Linked DNA regions of Homo sapiens: region 2 is linked to region 1. The links come from fine-mapping of genetic effects on gene expression. Tissue or cell type: whole blood. Region 1 holds a variant in brackets; the other region holds the start of a gene. All regions are shown on one strand. Distances are between the middles of the regions.

What was found. PIP is the estimated chance that this variant, and not a neighbour inherited with it, causes the effect.
Region 2: it holds the start of PARP4, and the variant in region 1 is fine-mapped to the expression of PARP4 in whole blood (INTERVAL, PIP above 0.99).

The regions. Positions count from the first base shown.
Region 1 is chr13:24,471,846-24,478,610 of GRCh38, reverse strand. It overlaps PARP4 (poly(ADP-ribose) polymerase family member 4), which reads left to right. Exons shown (of 34, transcript NM_006437.4): 13 at 335-518; 14 at 754-910; 15 at 3,015-3,139. Among named protein-coding and RNA genes, the nearest start is that of PARP4, 38 kb to the left of the region's middle. The variant C/A (reference allele first, on the strand shown) is at 3,546.
Region 2 is chr13:24,510,348-24,517,112 of GRCh38, reverse strand. It overlaps PARP4 (poly(ADP-ribose) polymerase family member 4), which reads left to right and starts at 4,335. Exons shown (of 34, transcript NM_006437.4): 1 at 4,335-4,407. All of the region lies in intron 1 of LOC105370117 (a long non-coding RNA gene), which reads right to left. RefSeq lists a silencer at 4,178-4,337.

The DNA of each region.
Region 1 (6,765 bases):
AATTTTAAAAGTTAGCTAGGTGTGGTGCACATCTATAGTCCCAGCTACTCAGGAGGCTGAGGCAGGAGGATCAGTTGAGCCCAGGAGTTGGAGACTGCAATAAGCTATGATCATGCCACTGCACCCTAGCCTGAGTAACAGAGCAAAATTCTGTCTAAAAAAAAAGAAGAAATATTAAATAAATAAGTGCATAATAAAGTTCTAAATTGAGTCTTTGGAGATATTTCAATAATAGGAAAATTTAGAACAGTTTACCAGGAAAGTCTTTTCAATAGTATGTTATTGACAAGTCACTCTAAGCTGTAAATATGTGTTTATTTCCTTTCGCATGTAGTACAAGTATCAAGTACTCACACCCGGGAGAGACAGATGGCACCAGACTCCTGCTCATTTGTGACGTAGCCCTCGGAAAGTGTATGGACTTACATGAGAAGGACTTTTCCTTAACTGAAGCACCACCAGGCTACGACAGTGTGCATGGAGTTTCGCAAACAGCCTCTGTCACCACAGACTTTGAGGTATTTTTATTTCAAGGAAGAAGCAAAGAGGGTCTTGAATGCTCAAAGAAAGGCCTTAGTTTTTTGCTCCTATTTTCATTAAATATGCTTAAGTTTAAATAATTGTTATATATTTACTGCATGAATTAATTCAACATTTTCTAAATTAGCAAACATGCTTTTATGAAAACATCTGCCAATACAGGTTTTTTGTTGCTTCTGTTGTTAATCACCTACTGATTTCTGTTTGCTCTAGGATGATGAATTTGTTGTCTATAAAACCAATCAGGTTAAAATGAAATATATTATTAAATTTTCCATGCCTGGAGATCAGATAAAGGACTTTCATCCTAGTGATCATACTGAATTAGAGGAATACAGACCTGAGTTTTCAAATTTTTCAAAGGTTGAAGGTAGGACAATTTTCTTGAATGCTGTTTTATGTTATTATATTTATAGACCTCAAATGTTATATTTTCAATGGAATGTATATTTGCATTTGTTATATCTATGACCTCATCCATAAGTATTTCATTTCCTTTCAATCTCAAAATTGTTTCCCACAAATTTCTCTCAGTGTTAACATCAGTCAAACCCCTCTGCCTAGTATCAAAATAAAGCACTTAATTTTAAAATATATATATTTCTTTTTTTTTGAGACAGGGTCTCACTCTGTCCCCCAGGCTGGAGTACAGTGTGTGATCAAAGTGCACTGCAGCCTCAAACTCCTGGGTTTCAAATGATCCTCCTGACTCAGCCTCCTGAGTAGCTAGGACTACCATCCGTGACTTTTTTTTTTAGAGACAAATTCTCACTATGTTGCTTAGGCTGGCCTGAAATTCCTGGCATTAAGCGATCCTCCTGCCTTGGTATCCCAAAATGCTGGGATTACAGATATGAGCCACCATGGCCAGCCTCATTTCCTTTTTTATCTTGCGTACATAACAACTAGGATGATTGAGAAATTCCATGTGACTTCATTAACACACTGAAGTTGAGCTTATTCGCTTCAGGAATAGCCAAGGCTAAAACCTGTGGAACCTTGCTAAGATGTCATGGTGCAGAAAGTGTAATGGGGTGGGGAGAGCAGACAGCAGAGCCGCTGTAGAGCCAGGAAGCCCAGGGTTTGAGTGTCGCCCTGCCACCTTGCAGTTTTGAAACTGCATGACCTTTTGCGCTCCACCTTCTCTCCGATGGGAATGAGAGCAGTACCCGCATGACAGAATTGCTGTAAGGGCTGAAGGGGAAATTGAAGGCACTGAGTAAATTGCCATGTGTGGTGCGTGTGTTAGCCATAGTAGTGCGAGCATACAAGAGGATATTCACTTCTCAGAGTATCATGAGGCCAAACAATTACAGTATTAATTAGTAGGACTGTAAGAACACATTAACATTTTTGACCATGCTCAAATTATTTTTTGTCAGAAACGCATGAGTTCATGTGTGTTCAGGGGTGACTCCAGTTTTTTCTCTGGGAGTCATTAAGTGAAATATCTGGCAAGACAATATGTATTTATATTTCCTAACCTTATCTGTATGTTTGTGCCACTTAGAATAGGATGTGTACATTTTTCAATATGCTGCCATAGGAGTTGATTCAGTCTTCCTTGGATTGAAAATCTACGTTGTTTGATGCCATCCCAAAATGCTTGTGTGGCACCATAAATAATAGTGACCGAGCCCTTCCACACTATAAGCCAGGGAATGCAGACACCTGGATTCAGGCTTCAGCCACACTTCAGACAGTCTGAAGACCTCTGTGTATTTGTGTGTATGTTTAAATGTATGTCAAGTAATGCTGTGTTTTCAGGAGGACACCCCACAGTCTCTACATTAAAAAGGCAGAAGAGCACATGTCTGTAGTCGCAGCTACTCGAGAGGCTAAGGCAGGAGGATTACTTGAGCACAGGAGTTCAAAACCAGCCTGGGCAACATAGTGAAACTCCAATCTCTACCAAAGAAAAAAAAAAGAAAAGAAGAAAAAAAAATTTAAGCTGAAGGGTCTTTAAAAAACAAAAAAAAAGGCAGGCCAGGTGTAGTGTCTCACGCCCATAGTCCCAGCACTTTGGGAGGTCAAGGCAGGTAGATCCCTTGAGTCCAGGAGTTCAAGACCAGCCTGGACAACATGGCTAAACCTCATCTCTACAAAAAATACCAAAAAATTAGCTGGGCATTGTGGTGCATGCCTATAGTCCCAGCTACTCGGGAGGCTGAGACAGGAGGATCACCTGAGCCAGAGAGGAGGGGTCTACTGTGAGCAGAGATTGTGCCACTGCACTCCCACTTGGGTGACAGAGTGACATGCTATCTCAAAAAAAAAAAGGCAGAAGGCACCTCTCATTTTTCTCATGTGGGTTCACTTGCTTTTCAGAATTGGCTATTGAAAATCATAAAATGCTATTTGCCCATTTTCCCTAAAATAAAATGCATGAAGGCTTGAAGAAGGAATAAAGATCAAGATAACAAAAATAGACAGGGATGGTTTTGAAAGCTAATAGTAACATTTTTAACGTTTAGATTACCAGTTACCAGATGCCAAAACTTCCAGCAGCACCAAGGCCGGCCTCCAGGATGCCTCTGGGAACTTGGTTCCTCTGGAGGATGTCCACATCAAAGGGAGAATCATAGACACTGTAGCCCAGGTATGTTGTCTGTGGCTTTATGACACTTAAACTACATGGATGTAAACCATACATGAGAATTTGATTGCAGTTGCATGAACTGAAGGGAATAGATAGATTTCTAAAATGTATTTTATTCAAGAGATATTCACTGAGCACTCCATGCCAGGGACTAGCTAGGCTCTGAGCATCCAGCAGTGCACAATACAAAAGCTCTGCCCTTGTGGAGCACACACTGTGTGGGGGAGTAGGCAATAATCATGATGAAAGAGTGAAACACATAACATGTTAGGTGGTGACAGGTGCTAAAGAGAAAAAGGAAAGCAGGAGGAGCTGCTTTCACAGATAGGAGCTGTGAAAGACAGGGGCTTTGAACCTGTAAACAGAATGGCCATGGAGGCCTCCCTGAGAAGGTGACATCTGCATA[C/A]AGACCTGAAGGAAGTGGGGGCTAAACTGTGTGGACGTCAGGGGATGCTTATTCCAGGCAGCGGGAACATCACATGCCAAGGCTCAGAGGTAGGAAGGAGGCTGATCTGGCCCAGGCGCGCCAAGGAGATGCACTGTGGCTGCAGTGGGGTGGAAAGGGGAGAGTGCATGGGGACTGAGTCAGAGAGGTGAGGGGCTCTCACATCAGTACACAGGTCATGCTGTCCTTGACTCTGAGTGAAATGGAAGCTTCTAGATGTTTGGCAGAGGAATGACATGAACAGACCTGTTTTAACCAGCTCACTCTGGCCACCATGTTGGGAACAGTAGGAAGAGGCCCAGTGGGAGAAATGTTAGGTCAAGTTCCCTAGAAAGCAGACTCTGGATGGAATTTGTTTTCAGGAAGCCTGTGGGACTGTGCCTGCGGGAGCCGCACCTGTGAGGGAGTGAGGGAGGCAGGACGTGGCCGAGGAGACAACAGAGTCCTCAGATGATCTTGGGGGAAGCTCTGGGCCAGAGTGGTCCTTGAGAGAAGGTCTGAATCAAGGCAAGGGGGCCGGGCTTTGTAGCCCCACTGGGGCCAGTCCTGGGATGTGGGCTGCTCCGGGGAGGGGTCAGAACCTTGGCTAAGGCAGTTTGTCTTTGGCTGAGGATGGTTCCTGGGGAGGCGCCCCACAGGTGACACTCCTAGCAGTCTCAGCCCTGAAGGGGACACAGCAGGCCCAACGTCACATCACATAGAGGAGACGATTGACAATTCAGTTAAGGGACCTGGTGATGTGGAGAAGAAGGTTTGCAGTGGGGGTGTAGGAAGTGATGGAGTCCGCCAAGGCCTGAGAGCAGAGCCAATCAGATTTGCTGGTGGGGACGGGACACAAGAGAAAGACAGCGGCCCAGGAAGACAGCAGAGTGTTTGCCCTGAATAACTAGAAGGATCATGTTTGCACTTACTAGAATGGTCAAAGTCACAGGAGGGCAGGTTGGGGGCCATCAGGAGTTTATCTTTGGCCACGTAGGTCTTGTGACTACATAGGACCAGGGAGGAGACCCAAGTTGGACTTATAAGTGGGGAGTCAGCAGCATTCACATAGTGTTTAAAGTCATGAGCCCAGATTAAACACCCAGAGAATCAGTAGAGCACAGAGGCCAACGTGGAGACGTAGGGGAGGAGGCTGAGTCAGCCACAGAGACCAGGAGGGAGCGGCTGTGGAGACACACGAGGACAGCTGAACAGGGAGGGGAGGCTGGTGGGTCTCATGAATAACAACCCAGCCCTGATCACTGGATTTAGCAATGAGATTGTTGGTGACCTTTGCCTTTTGATGGTGTGGTGGGGGTGAAAGGCTGATCAGAGTGAGTTCAAGAGGGAATGGGAGGAAGAACTGGGAGACAGAGGAGAGAAGATGAGACAGCAGCTGAAGAGAAGTGGGGTTGAGTATTTTCTTTCTCATTTTAAGATGCAAGAAACAACAGCATGTGTGGGAGTCAGCGCAGGAGGGAAACCTGGCGACCTGGGAGAGGGGAATTGCTGGAACTGCTTCCTTCTCTATACCCTTCTCTATGTTTTATTGCATAAATAGGAAACATTGTTGAAAAGACTTTCCTGGTAAACTGTTCTGAATTTTACGTTTATCGAAATATCTCCAAAGACTCAATTTAGAACTTTATTATGCCCTTATTTATTTAACATTTCTTTGTAACAAACATGTATATTGCCCTTATGTTGTGCCAGGCAGTGCTCAAAGCACTTTCTTCCCAGAGAGAGATGAATTCTACTGTTCTCCCAAACCTTTGTTAGCTACTAAAATATACACATTTTGCTATCATAAATACCAGGGTGGTGGCCGGTGCGGTGGTTCATGCCTGTAATCCCAGGACGTTGGGAGGGAGGCTGAGGTAGGAGGATTGCTTCAGCTCAGGAGTTCCAGACCAGCCTGGGGAACATGGAGAAACCCCATCTCTACAAAAATTGGCTGAGCGCAGTGGCGTACACCTGTAGTCCCATCTACTTGGGAGGTCGAGATGGGAGGATGGCTTGCCATTACTAGAATGGGCAAAGTCACAGGAGGGCAGGTTGGAGGAGGCAGAGGTTGCAATGAGCCAAGATCGCACCACTGCACTCCAACCTGGGTGATAGAGTGAGACCCTGTCTCAAAAAAAAAAAAAAAAAAAAAACTCAGGGTGTTGAAAGAGAAGGAGAAAATCCCACCTTATTAAATTATCTGCACTGAAGCTCAGAAAGAGCATTAAATACCAAGTGAGTAAGAACTGGTCAAAGCAAAAGACAAGCATCACAGGAGGGTTATCTAATGCGGGTGCTGGGGCCGCAGCCAGGAGCTCGCAGCAGGTTCATCATCCACAGTCACAGGATGGAAGGCAGCGTTTCAGGGGTGCCAAGTGGCCAGATGCAGTGGTAGAGCTTGGAAAGTTAAGTTTTTGGTTTTCTAAAATTGAATTGGTTTGCTAAGATTTGGCCTCATGATCAGCTTCTGACTCTGAAGATTGCATTGAACAACCATAAAGGCCTTTGAGGAGATTAAGAACGTTCAAGTACAGTGCCATGATGTTCTGATCCCTGTAGAGGAAAATTAGTTCCATTTCAGTGATCACCTTAATCTGGGGAGACGGGGCGTTGGGTGAGAAGAGCAGTTTGGATATAGCTGACCTCCACCCCTGGGCCCACTCTGACCCATACACACATCCTCAAGGCAGCTCAGAGCAACGTCATAGACTTTGAAAAGACCCAGCTGTGGGCTCATGGGACATGTTCCATTTCCACCAATCCCTTTGGCACCACTTAGGATCTGTAAACATAATGGTTACCATTTCCTAAGAGTCAGGCCCTCAGCCGAGTTTTCCACATGCAGTACTTAATTCTCTCAGACTCCATGCCAAGTGCTATAATTATGCCCATTGTTTGGAAGAAGAAGCTGAGGCCCAGAGACAAACAATATGATAAAGCCCAAATTTGAACTCAGATCATTCTGATTCCAGCGTCCAGATTCTTAACCAGTACACCATAGTGCAGCATGGTAGATCATACAAAGCAAAGGATCCGGAGTTTGTAAGGCTTAGCTTTGAATTCTTGTTTATTCTTTCTAGTGCTGTGAGTTTGGGAAAGTTACTTAACTCTTTTGCCTCGTTTTCCTCATGTGTAAAATGGAAATAATAATATCTGCCCATCAGTGTAGTGGCTATTCAATCTAATAAATATAAAGGAC
Region 2 (6,765 bases), 39 kb before region 1:
CTGCAATCAGCACATTAGACCTGGAGCACCCACACAGACAGTGATGCGAATGATCTGAGCTGTTCCCTAGTTATCAAAACCCGCCCTTTAGATTATCCTTAAAATTTTGGTATCATTGGTTGATGGAATACAGGCTGACTTTTCCTTCTGGCATGATCTCAGCTCACTGCAACCACCACCTCCCCAGTTCAAGTGATTCTCCTGCCTCAGCCACCTGAATAGCTGGGACTACAGATGTGCACCACCATGCCCAGCTAATTTTTGTATTTTTAGTAGAGATGGGGTTTTACCATGTTGGCTAGGCTGGTGTCAAACTCCTGACCTCCAGTGATCCACCGCCTCAGCCTCCCAAAGTGCTGGGATTACAAGCATGAGCCACCACACCCAGCCAAGAGTTCACAACTTTTCATTGTTGGTCTGATGGTAGCAAGTGTCCACTCTGTCCAGAGAGGACATGTCAGGTGCAGTGGCTTACACCTGTAATCCCAGCACTTTGAAACACTGAAGTGGATCATTCGCGCCCAGAAGTTTGAATGTTAGCCAGGCATGGTGGCATGCACCTGTAGCCCTAGCTACTTGGGAGGCTCAGGCAGGAGGATCACTTGAGCCCAGGAGTTTAAGGTTATGATCACACCACTAGACTGCAGCCTGGGCGACAGAGTGAAACCCCCAACTCTTAAAAAGAAAAAAGAGAGAACATAAGTGCTAGCCTGGCCAAGGGATGATCCCCAAGCCCATGTCTTCCAGGCCAGAAAGGGGAATTCTAACAGGTTGGGAAGATGCACTGAGAGATGCATGTGTCTGGCCTCTAGGCAAACCCAAGAAAACCCACATCCTCCTTCACCTGCAGGAAGAGTGAAGGAGTTCTTCACCAAGGCCTGAAACCTCAGATTTCCAGAATTACTTCTGGAAAGTTTCTAACAACAACCTTGGGTGCTGAGAGACATTTTTTAAATCTTGGCAGTTTGATATAGGTAAATCTATTGCTGGTGCATTGGACTTACAACAAAACATCCTGGAAACCTAATGAGTCTATACAGCAAAGGGATTATCACATCCACTACATTCTAGAATGCCTGACCAATGATGAATGAAGTTGAATAGATAGTAAAGGATTTCTAGCTTGAATCTTTGTTGTAATAAGAGCAGAACAATACCATAATAGTTGTCACACCTGTATTTTTGCTTTCTTCAAAAATAGCAATAATTATATAGTAGTTGGATGGTTCTTCAAGCATTCTATAGGTTTTTATTACACATTTTTTTTAGATGGGATGACTCTATCACCCAGGCTGGAGGGCAGTGGCACAATTACAACTCACTGTAGCCTCAACCTCCAGGTCTCAAGTGTTCCTCCTGCCTCAGCCTCCTAGGTAGCTGAGATGACAGGCACATGCCACCATACCTGGCTAATTTTTGCATTTTTTGTAGAGATGGGTTTTCACCATGTTGCCCAGGCTGGTCTTGAACTCCTGGGCTCAAGCAATCCACCTGCCTCAGCCTCCCAAAGTGCCAGGATTACAGGCATGAGTCACCGTGCCTGGCCTATCATTTCTTGGAGGAGAGTTTTAACAGATATAGAATTCATGGTTGCCGGTTTGTTTGTTTTCTTTCAGCACTTTATATCATCCCACTGCCTTCTGGCTCCCATGGTAATAGATTGGCTGTTAATCTTATTCAAGTTCCTTTGTATGTAGTGATCATTTCTGTCTAGCTGCTTTTAAGCTTCTCTCTGTCTTTGGCTTTCAACAGTTTGATTATTAATATAACTCTATTGTGGACTTTTTGAGTTTATCATACTTGAAGTTCATGGAGCTTCTCTGAAGTGTTACATTATGTATTTTAACAAATTGGGGACTTTGGAGCCACTGTTTCTTCAGATACTCTTCCTGCCACCTTCACCCTCATCTTTCTTTCTGGGACCCCCTTTATGCATATGCTGATACACTTGATGGTGTCCACAAATCTTTTGGACTTTGATCTTCATTCTTCTACTTTCTGCTCCTCAGAGTTAATAATTTCAACAGTTTTATCTTCGAGTTTGCTCATTCCTTCTCTTACCTGCTCAAATCTACTCTGGAGCATCACTTGTGTATTTTTCATTTAAGTTATTGTATTTTTTTCTTTTTCTTTTCTTCTTCTTTTTTTTTTTTTTGAGACAAGATATTGCTCTGTCACCCAGGCTGGAGTGCAGGAGTGTGATCTTAGCTCACTGCAGCCATGAACTTCTTGGCTCAAGTGATCCTCCTGCCTTAGCCTCCTGAGTAGCTAGGGCCACAGGCATGCACCACCATGCCCGGTTAATTTTGTAATTTTTTTGTAGAGAGGGGATCTCCCTATGTTGCCAAGGCAAACTCTTGGTCTCAAGCGATCCTCCCGCCTTGGCCTCCCAAGACACTAGGATTACAGGCATGAACCACCATGCCTGGTCCTATTGTACTTTTTAACTACACAATTTCTTTTTGGTTCTTTTCAGTTCCAAAATGTGTTTGGTTCCTTTTATAATTTCTATCTCTTTATTAATATTCCTTATTTGTTTTTTAAATAATTTCAACTTTTATTTTAGATTCAGAGGGTACATGTGCAGGCTTGTTACCTACATATAATTCGTGGTGCTGAGGTTTGGGGTATGACTGAGCCCCTCACCCGGGGACTGAGCATAGTACCCAATAGTTTTTCAACCCTTGCCCCTCCCCCTCCCTCCCTGTCTAGTTGTCCCCAGTGTCTATTGTTGCCATCTTTATATCCATGAGTACCCAGTGTTTAGCTCCCACTTACAAATTAGAACATGTGGTATTTGGTTTTCTGTTCCTTCATTAATTCACTTACGACAATGGCCTCCAGTTGCAGTCACGTTGCTGTGAAGGACATGATTCCATTCATTCTTTTTATGGCTTCGTAGTATTCCATGGTGCAAATGTACCACATTTTCTTTATCCAGTCCATTGTCGATGAGCACCTAAGTTCATTCCATGTCTTTCCTATTGTGAAGCGTGCTGTGACGAACATACTAGTGCATGTGTCTTTTTGGTAGAATGAGTTCTCTTGTTTTGAATATGTACCCAGTAATGGGATAGCTGGGTTGAATAGCAGTTCTGTTTTCAGCACTTTGAGAAATCTTCAAACTGGTTTCCACAGTGGTTCAACTAATTTACATTCCCACTGACAGTGTATAAGCATTTCCTTTTCAATAAAGCCTTGCCAGCATCTGTTGTTCCTTGACTTTTTAATAATAACCATTCTGACTGGTGTAAGATGGTATCTCATTGCAGTTTTAATTTGCACTTTTCTGATAATTAGTTATGCTGGGCTTTTTTTCATGCTTGTTGACCATTTGCACATCTTCTATTGCATATTCTCTATTTATTGAGACTTTGTTCTCCTGGTTGTTTCTTTCAGTTATTTTTCTATGTTTCCTTTCACTTTTTGTCCATGTTTAAGACAGTTTATTTGAAGTATTTGTCTAATAATTCCTATGTCTGTGCTTCCTCAGCTCAGGGACAATTTCTGTTCATTTCTTTTTTCCTTTGAATTGGCCATTTTTTCGCCTTTTTTTTTGCATGCCTCATAATTTTTTGTTGAAGATTGGACATTTTGAGCATTACGATGTGGTAACTCTAGGAATCAGTCTCTCTCCTCCCCCAGAATCTCTTGTTGTTTCTTAGACAACCCTATAGAGTAGGTTGTAATGATGAAACTTGGTAAATTACCTTGTCCCCAGCCCCCTTGGTAATAAATTGTGGAGTCAGGATTCAACCCCATACCCTTTCCACTGTATTCTCTACTCTATCCTTTCTATTCTCATTTTATTCAGTATCCTAAAAATCTGAATCTTCCCCATTGCTTTATTCCCATTTCAGTGAATCTCAGATCTGTATCTCCAGCCCCCTGCCTCTCTTGAATGGCAGATAAATATATTTCCAACTAGTTACACTGTCACGAATTTCAAACGCAGGAAGGCTTAAAGTAAATTTATTATCTCACTCTCCTGTTTCCACGAACTTTCCCGAAATTTTCTTCTTTCCCGGCCTTGTGAATCCCTTCCATTTCTCAGTTAAAGGACAGCACCATCCACCCACCTCTCTCAAAGCCGAGCTTTGTATTAATCCTCATTGACAAAATCCCTCCTGAAATATGAAACTGAAAGCCCTGAACCCTCCGGCTGATCTTGGAAGAGAAACCCCGCCAGAGGCCGGGGACCCGCTCCCCACCTGGCGGACCCGATTCCGGGCGCGTTCCGGCTATCGTCCCTGCTTGGGACGCTGCGCCCGCCTGGTGCGGGGCGGGGTTCCGGCGCAGTGGCGCCCGCCCAGCCCCGGGGGCAGGGAGAGCCTAGATTACGGAAGTACCGCGAGCAAGGAGCGCGGAATCGGGGAGCGTCCGGAGCTAGCTGGATCCTCTAGGCAGGTGCGTGGGCGCTGCGGGGTGGGGGGCTGCAAAGGTCCCTGTAGTCCTAGCCAGGAAGTGGCCCGCGTACTACTTTCCCGCCAGTGGCTGCACCCTTGCCCTGCGCGGCGTTGGCGCTGTGGGCCTGACGGCGCTGCTAGGCTCGGGAGTGGACTAGCTAGTGCAGCCAGCGCCCTCGGGGAGGGATATTGCGGTCGTTCCGCTCTGCCCCGCGGCGCAGCCCTGGTGACGAGAAACCGGGTGCGGTGGGGGGCGCCCACCGGAGCCGACAGTCACACCAAGTCTCCGCACCCCGTGCGGTGCGGTTCGCAGTAGCACGCGTTGTTTCTTGTTTCCAGTATGCCAAACGGCCTTCTTTCCTAAAGTTAGGTTTCGAATTGTGCAAAAAGTAAGGTGGTTTGGTGAGTAATCAGGAAGTACTATCTGACCTCGTGAGTCATTGGGAACACCGTGATAGAAACAATGTGTTTGTTGAGGTCCAAAGTTGAAAACCTCTAACTCAGTTAAGTAATTCCTGCTAGGAGGGCCGAATGGTTCACCCAGGGATCGAGTTGGTAGATCACAGGTTCTAGAAAACTAAGGCGCTGCTAAATATTCAAGCCCAAGCACTTTCAATTCTGGACTGCTGGATGACAACAATTATATGACAATATCCAAGCATAGTGCTATGATAAAGGGGAAGTTCGCTCTGAGATGTGCGTGTTGCAGACTCATTACATCTGACTTTATCATTTATTAAGTAAACATTAGGTCTTGTTTGTGTGCGTAGAGCTACTGTATATCATGTAGGAGTGAAATAAAAGTAGTACCTTTGTTGTTTAAGGGTTTAATAAACCCATTAGGGAGGTGCATTACTGATGCCATTTGAGTCCAAAATGCAAATAGTGTCAGAAGGCTTTTCTGTAATCCTGGGCTTTAATGGATACGTGAGAGTTTTTAGTAAGCAAGCTTTTATTGAATGCCCACTGTATATCAAAAGTGATCTTAGCGTGTGCTGACTCACACACTTCGGAAGGCGGAGGCTGTAGAATCAAGACTGCCCAGAAAGGGACTCCTCAGGGTTTTCCGAGAGGAGGAAATGCCAGTGGTAAAGACGAAGACCTGTGAAGCAGGAAGCCACTTGATTCCACCTACACCAATGGTTTATGGAGCAGCCAAGAGTTTGTGAGGAGGCGCGCTGAGGGTTTCTTAGGAATCGGGGCTGTTCCCTGCTGTCTTTGGGTGGAAGACACTCTGTGAATGTTATTTGGGGAAGAAGCTGGGAAGGGGGACAGGCTGGAGTGACTGTGCAGATTTGCCTTAGAGAATAACCAGCCCCTAGCCCAGTGTCCGCCACATCTCATATGTACGTAATCAGCGCTGATGAAAACATGAACTAACTCTGTGTTTAGAGAACACTTTGAAACAAGGAAGAACTAGTGGCGCATGTCGGTTAGGCGCTGTTAACCCAGAAGAGGGCTGGCATTTTACAGAGACTAGAGATGAATCTGTGGAAAGAGAGAAGTCAAGACCTGACTTGAGATTTCACGAAACCCAAAGTGCGCCTTTCCATACCTCCCACGCAGCCGCAGGTGCTAAGAACAGACCGCAGATTTATGTTTAAAATGTTTTTACTCTGGGCCGGGCGTGGCAGCTCACACCTGTAACCCCAGCACTCTGGGAGGCTGAGGCAGGAGGATGGCTTGAGCCCAGGAGTTTGTGACCAGCCTTGGCAACATAGTAAGAACCCTGTCTCTACCAAAATTAGCTGGGCATGGTGGTGCAGGCCTGTGGTCCCAGCTACTAAGTAGGCCGGGTGAAAGGATTGCTGGGAGGGAGGTCGAGGTTGCAGTGAGCTGTGACAGTGACCACACCACTGCACTCCAGCTTGGGAGACAGAGCCAGACCCTGTCTCAAATAAAATAAAATGTTTATACTTTGATTTCACAACTATGTGTATGTACTTAATGCCACTGAACTGTACACACAGTTTTAAAAACTGTACCACAATTTTTAAAAGGCTAAAAAATGTTTATACTCCTTGATTCAGTAATTCCATTTCTGGCCATCAACTCTAGGGAAACTATGACAGAGATGTGGCAAAAAAATATATGTACAAGCATTTTAATTAAAGTGTATTTCTAATAGTGAACACTTTTTTTTTTTTTTTTTTGAGACGGAGTCTCGCTCTGTCGCCCAGGCTGGAGTGCAGTGGCGGGATCTCCGCTCACTGCAAGCTCCGCCTCCCGGGTTCACGCCATTCCCCTGCCTCAGCCTCCCAAGTAGCTGGGACTACAGGCACCCGCCACTACGCCCGGCTAATTTTTTGTATTTTTAGTAGAGACGGGGTTTCACCGTTTTAGCCGGGATGGCCTCGAT